Linked DNA regions of Homo sapiens. The protein of the gene in region 1 purifies or fractionates together with the protein of each later gene. This does not show direct contact. Each region holds a gene or a part of one and is shown on either strand. Other genes may lie near its edges.

The links.
Region 2: the proteins of STEAP3 (region 1) and TTC21A purify together in Homo sapiens (affinity purification with mass spectrometry; one large-scale study listed by BioGRID and IntAct). This does not show direct contact.

The regions. Positions count from the first base shown.
Region 1 is NC_000002.12:119,263,938-119,266,412, forward strand, and holds the end of STEAP3 (metalloreductase STEAP3), read left to right. Parts: 3' UTR 1-1,715; downstream 1,716-2,475.
Region 2 is NC_000003.12:39,106,248-39,110,794, forward strand, and holds the start of TTC21A (tetratricopeptide repeat protein 21A), read left to right. Parts: upstream 1-1,432; 5' UTR 1,433-1,590; coding exon 1,591-1,617; intron 1,618-2,837; coding exon 2,838-2,967; intron 2,968-3,781; coding exon 3,782-3,892; intron 3,893-4,547. Other genes in the region: GORASP1 (Golgi reassembly-stacking protein 1), read right to left, coding at 139-216. UniProt on the Homo sapiens protein: Intraflagellar transport (IFT)-associated protein required for spermatogenesis. Required for sperm flagellar formation and intraflagellar transport.

The DNA.
Region 1 (2,475 bases):
TGGTCCTTTGCCCGGTGGTGGGAGGATGGAGGGATTGGGCTGAAGCTGCTCCACCTCATCCTTGCTGAGTGGGGGAGACATTTTCCCTGAAAGTCAGAAGTCACCATAGAGCCTGCAAATGGATCCTCCTGTGAGAGTGACGTCACCTCCTTTCCAGAGCCATTAGTGAGCCTGGCTTGGGAACAAGTGTAATTTCCTTCCCTCCTTTAACCTGGCGATGAGCGTCCTTTAAACCACTGTGCCTTCTCACCCTTTCCATCTTCAGTTTGAATGACTCCCAGGAAGGCCTAGAGCAGACCCTTTAGAAATCAGCCCAAGGGGGAGAGCAAGAGAAAACACTCTAGGGAGTAAAGCTCCCCGGGCGTCAGAGTTGAGCCCTGCCTGGGCTGAAGGACTGTCTTCACGAAGTCAGTCCTGAGGAAAAATATTGGGGACTCCAAATGTCCTCTGGCAGAGGACCCAGAAAACCACACTGGCTCCAACTTCCTCCTCATGGGGCATTACACTTCAAAACAGTGGGGAGCAACTTTTCCACCAAAGCTACAAACCTAAAATGCTGCTGCCCCAAAGCACAAGAGGGAAGAGCACCGCCGGGGCCACAGGACGTCTGTCCTCCAGTCACAGGCCATCCTTGCTGCTCCCTACTGACTCTAGCTTACTTCCCCTGTGAAGAAACAGGTGTTCTCGGCTGAGCCCCCAACCCTCTGCAGAACCAGGTTGATCTGCCACAGAAAAAGCATCTTTGAAGACAAAGAGGGTGAGGTCTTCATGAGTCTCCTGGGCCCAAAGCCATCTTCTGATGGAAGGAAGAGAGTAGGGCCAGTGAAGGCTGCCCAGAGAGAATGTCACAGATGAGGCTGCCCCTGCCCCCCCCCCGCCAGGGAGGTTTCATGAGCTCATGTCTATGCAGCACATAAGGGTTCTTCAGTGAAAAGCAGGAGAAGAGCCCACTGCAAGGATAGCTCATTAGGCACATGACCGATGCAGGGAAGGCCATGCCGGGGAAGCTCTTCCTGCAGGTATTTTCCATCTGCTGTGCCAAGGCTGAGCGGCAGAAACTTGTCTCATAAATTGGCACTGATGGAGCATCAGCTGTGGCCCACAGAGAGCCTTGCTGAGAAGGGGGCAGGTAAAGCAGAGATTTTAGCATTGCCTTGGCATAACAAGGGCCCATCGATTCCCTACTAATGAGAGGCAGGGAGAGCATGGGCAATGGAGACCCACCAATGATCCCCAACCCCGGTGGGTACTGGCTGCCTGCCCTGGGCCAGGGAATGGCTCCTTATACCAAAGATGCTGGCACATAGCAGAACCCAGTGCACGTCCTCCCCTTCCCACCCACCTCTGGCTGAAGGTGCTCAAGAGGGAAGCAATTATAAGGTGGGTGGCAGGAGGGAACAGGTGCCACCTGCTGGACAATCACACGAAAGGCAGGCGGGCTGTGTACTGGGCCCTGACTGTGCGTCCACTGCTGTCTTCCCTACCTCACCAGGCTACTGGCAGCAGCATCCCGAGAGCACATCATCTCCACAGCCTGGTAAATTCCATGTGCCTCTGGGTACAAAAGTGCCTCAACGACATGCTCTGGAAATCCCAAATGCCACAGTCTGAGGTTGATATCTAAAATCTATGCCTTCAAAAGAGTCTCTGTTTTTTTTTTTTAACCTGGTAGACAGTATAAAAGCAGTGCAAATAAACACCTAACCTTCTGCAAACTTCAGGCTTTTATTTCTGCCATGTAGATCACGTATCCATTCGTCCACTGACTCGAGAAGCCTTCAGCTTGGAGCCTGCTCTCAGGCAGGCAGTGTGCAAGGACTTGGGACTGCCAAGGTGAACACAGTGATCTGTGCTAGAGCTGGCCAATGAGGAAGGGCAGATGTGCAGACCTAAGGGACTAAGGGACATGCCAGGGAGGAAATGGGCAAGATCCAGGTGACAGAGTGTCGGGTGGGGGTGTGGGGATGTGAAAAGGTGGCTTCCTGGAGTGGTCTGAAGGCTGAGGCCTCGGTGCAGGTAAAAGCAGCAGAGCTTCTTGAATTATAATGTGCCTGGGAGTCACCTAGGAATGTGGTTCGAATGCGGGTTCTGATTTGTGGTCTGGGGTGAGGCATGAGACTGTGCATTTCTAATAAGCTCCTGGGTGACCTGTATGGTGATGATCCTCGGACACTCCGAGCGACAAGAGCTTAGATGGCATTCTTTGCCTCTGCTGTGCTTAGTCTATGGCACACTAATCTGTACACACACATCTCTGTCCCCTCAATCCTCCCCATGAGCCTGCATTCCCCTGGCAGCCCTGGCAAGGTACACGTCTGTACAATGCTATCTATGACCCCCGTGTTCTCTTAAAGGCAGAGGGAGAAACACTCCATCTTGGAGCCACAGCCTTGCACTTTGTGCTTCACGAGGGCTGCGGCACATTGGCCCTGGGTCCATCAGGAAAACAAAAGGAGCTCTCTTCAGAGACCACCC
Region 2 (4,547 bases), on another chromosome or scaffold:
GACTGACAACCTCTGATCCCTGGTCCCTCTCCAATTTGTCCCTCTCCATCAGGCAGGCCCCTCCCGTCTTCGAAGCTCCCATCATCGCCCCACCCCTCCTCTTGCCAATATCCTGAGTTCCTTTGCCTTTAATCAAACCTGTTGGAAGACGCTCCTGGCTGGATGCATTCCACTGTCCACGCTTGCTGTTTGGTGTCTCACCATAAGAAAGCCCATTCCCAAGCACAAATCCTGTCAACTCTGGGTTCTCCAAGCCAGCCTGGTTTTCACGTTAAGAAACTTTTAGCCCTCTCATGTGGTTAGCTGGCAACAGACCCTACCTTCAAAACACACAAACCGACAAGCTTGCCTGTCTCCACTCATCTCTGCATCCAGCTGCCTTTCACTAGGGAAAGGGGGGGTGCAGGGACGCCTCTTCCCCGCAGCGCTCCGGGGTCAGAGACCCCCAGCCCCTCTCACCTACATTATAGCCCTTCCCTCACCGCAGGCACAAATCTCCATCCGGCTGCGGGACCCTCTCCTCACCCTCACAGCACACTCCGTTCTAGGAACCCCACTCCGTCTCCACTCTCCGGAAGCCTGCTCGCCCAGACCTCCATGTAGCGGCATCTAAAGGCTGGGACCCTCCCCAGCTGCAAACGCTCTCCTCGAGGATTCTGCAGCACTCTCCCGGCCCTCCCGCTCCCCACTATCCCGTGGCTGGTTTGCACCGGTCCTCTACCCTCGGAAGCCCTTACGACCCTACGACTGGCAGGACGCGCGCCGACGGGCTCCCCCGCAGCTGCGTCCACTCGGTTAACCCCGGCCCCCGGGACTGTCCTCGGCGTGGCTGACTCTCTTCCCAGGCCCAGCACGGAGAGCGGCCCGCGGCAGGCGAGCGTAAATGTGTGCTAAGTGCACGAGTGCGTCCCGACTGGTAGTGGTGCATTCTTCACCCGGGAGGAGCGCCATTCCCGGCGGCCGGACCAGGAAAACGCTCCGCTTCCGGCACTGCTGGCACTTGGGGCGGGCGCTGGGCCCGACCGCGGCCGCGGACTAGCCAGGGTCCGGGAGTCCCGCGAGGCCGCCTCTCCCAGGAGGCTCCCACCGGGCAGGGGGCACCTCCCGCCACCCAGGCGGAAACACTCGGGCCGGGACCCCGCCGCAGTCGCCAGCCAGCCGGCGACCGGACGCCCGGGCGCGGGGTTGCGGGCGCCTCGCCAAGGTCACCGGCGCCGCGGCGGCAACTCACCCCGTGGAGGTGGAAGCCCTCGGCGCCGCCTGCGGGCTGCTCAGCGCTGACGCCCAGGCCCATGGCAGCGGCTCCGCTCGGCACCCAGGTCCAGTCCCGCTGCGCCTACCCGGACCGACCCGACGCCAGTAGCACCGACTCGCTCTCTCGGCGCTCGATTCCTGCGCCTTGTGACGTGAGGCGTTTTGTTCCTCCCACTCCAGACACTGGACGCTCCTAGCAACCGGCTAGCAGCTCGGTTTCCAAGGACTGTAACGCCTTCAACCGCCCGCCGCGATAGAGTGCCCACGACCCTGCCTCGGGAATCCCGCTCTGCACCGCCCCACCAGACCCGGACTCGGAGCCGCGAGCGGCCCGAGATGAGCAGCAATGACTCCTCCCTTATGGTGCGTGGCCCGGGCGCTGTCCGAGGGCTCCCTCGTGACTCCCCGCCCCTGACCCAGAGACCGTCTGCCCTGCTACTCTCCTGCCACCCTTCGCTGTCCTCAGTTATATCAGGCGGTCCTGCCTTTTCTTGCCCCACTCCCCCTGGCAAGGGCGTCTTCTCCGGTGGCTTCTGCGCACCCTGAGCCCCAAATTAGCATCCCCGTTTCTTGAGCTACCCCAAACCAGCTCATCCAATCACTATCATTATCCCTTCTTGTCATCATCCCTTCTTCCACCCAGCTCACTCTCGCCTGCGCCTCCCACCCCAGTTGATGGCTTCACCATTTAATCTCCTAGCCTTAACTCATACCTCTTCCCTATACTCATCTTCTAATCCTGTCTACAAGAAATGCCAGCTCCTTGATGTCTCCTGGGTTTTCTTTTTATCTTTTTATCTTCTAGCCCAGAACCAGCACCATCTCTCCCCCCTGAGAGCCTGCAACAGCCTCCCTCCCATCTGGTTTCTCTGCTGTGGCTCTTTTCAGCATCAGTAGTCCCTGCTGCCACCACGGCACACACCCCCCACATGCAAAAGCAGCCAGAGTGGTTGTTGCAAAAATGTACATCTGAAAACATCCCTCGCCTTAAAACCATTCTGCTTTCTGTTACCCTTAGGATGGTGTCTGGGCTCTTTCATATGGCCCATGAGGATGTTTACAGTCCAACCACATCTGCTCCCAACCTAGCACCCACAAACCTTAGAGGAAGTGAAACTTAACTTTAAAATCTCAGCCCCTTTGTCAAGCTGTAGTTTCCATGGGCTTAAGCTTCCTTAGCTGTGAAAGATACTGAGAGGACCATGCACAGGATAGTGGATATGAAGCCCACAATAACTTGTAACTACAATTCGTATAATTTTTCTTATTATTTGTCCTCATTTTTCCCCCCTTATTCCCTTCCTAAGACAAAGCCTTGGTTGAATTCCCCATCATAGTTGAACCAGAATCTGTTGGTAATCCCCCAAACAAACACCTCCAAACTCTTTCCTGGGAAAACTGCATGGAGCTGCTCCCAGGGCTGTTAGAGGACAGGATGAGGCCTGAATGTTTCCTCTTTCTCTTCCCTTTGCAGAACTGAGGAGGAGCAGGGGATAGGGAAGGGAGCAGGTCTCATCCCATCTGGGACAGAACAGAGACAGAGAAGGGACTGGGCTATTGCAGTTATGTCTTCCTTCATACAGGCTGGGATCATTTACTATAGCCAGGAAAAGTACTTCCACCATGTGCAGCAGGCTGCAGCTGTGGGCCTGGAAAAATTCAGCAATGACCCTGTGTTGAAGTTCTTTAAAGCCTATGGAGTCCTCAAAGAAGGTAAGGACTTGGCAGTGTTGGTCTTGTGACCCCAGGCACTAGCTGGGCCCTAACACTCTGGCTCCACCTGGATGCCTTCTTGTATCCTAGTTATGGTCCCATAAAAACAGTTTCACACTCAGCGGCTGGATTCCCACGGGAATCCACAGAGGCCTACGTAATCCATATCTAGTTGACTTTTGAGACCTCAGAGCGCTGACTATCCCTGCTCTGCACCTCGGGTTCCCTCTCTGTAAAATGAGTGGTTGGAGAGATAGCTGCATGATTCTTGAAGTAATTCCAGGCCTGGAAGCTGAGAACTGGTAATGCAGGCAAAGGAGGGGGAAGAGGTAGGTGTGAGGACAGGTGGGTATGGTACAGGTACAGGGAGAGGAGTGAGACCCATGCAGGTGCAGATGGGCTGACATTCAGAAGGTGGTCCTAGGCTGAGGACTGGCAGAATAGCCCATGGCCAAATGTCTGAGGACATGGAGGGATAAATGTAATCAGTGGCTCTTGAGCAGTAGCTGAGAATGCCCTGCCTGAGGTCCTTCTTCAGAACTGACGCAGCTAATAATTGCAGCCTCACACATATCCCCACAAGTACTCACAGGGTGAACCTTTCAAGTCCAAGATTTCCAGCCCCTAACAGCCTGGACCATGTTACCAGCAACTCTTTCAAAGAGCCCCAATCTTCAGGGAACTTGGGTCACTGGGGACCTTTCAGACCAGTTAGTCCAGCAGGTAGTAGTGCTGAGCTGTTGGGTCAGCTACAGAGTCTCATGTCCTCTAGTCCTGGAGCTTGAGAGTATAACTATGTGGACTGTCTTTGCAGAGCACATCCAGGATGCCATCAGTGACCTGGAAAGCATCAGGCATCACCCAGACGTGTCCCTGTGCTCCACCATGGCCCTCATTTATGCTCACAAAAGATGTGAAATCATTGGTGAGTGCCACCATGCTCAACCAGGCCTGACCCACCAGGGGAAGGAAAGCCCTGCCCCAGAGATAACACAGCCCCTCAAGGGCTGCCAAAGGAGGTATGTGCCCTGGTGGCTGTGCAGATGCTGTTAACCAGTGAGAAGTGGCTGCTGCTCCTCTCCCCCTGGAGGCCTGGGAGAAGACTCCATGCCTGGGCCCAACTGAGTGGAAGCAGGCAGAGCCCATGACAGTGGGAGGGGCCCATGCTCCAGATCCCAAGAGTTGGGGAAACACCCTTCTTCTTTGCCAAGATCTTGTCAGAAAAACCAAGCCAATATATATAATTCTACCCCTAATCTCCACATTTCTAGAGTCAGGGAGAGGGTCCAAGAGAGACTACAGACTACTATTTCCCTACTCACAATAAGTTGTGGGCCTGAGGCTAAGGATTTTGGTTTGGCCTGCCTGCTCAGCACACTGCTGGGCACAGAGAAGAGAAGGTAATCTCAGACAGCACACGTGAGTCCACACCAGGGCAGCCCCTGCAGCATCTCAAGGGCAGGTACTGCTGGTTTCCAGGCCTTGGGCTGCATGCGGTGTGCTGCATATGTTGAAGGAGATCCACAGTGTCTGGGGGAGACCCCGAGGTAGTTCCCTGGGCCCTCGGTGGCCCATGCAGA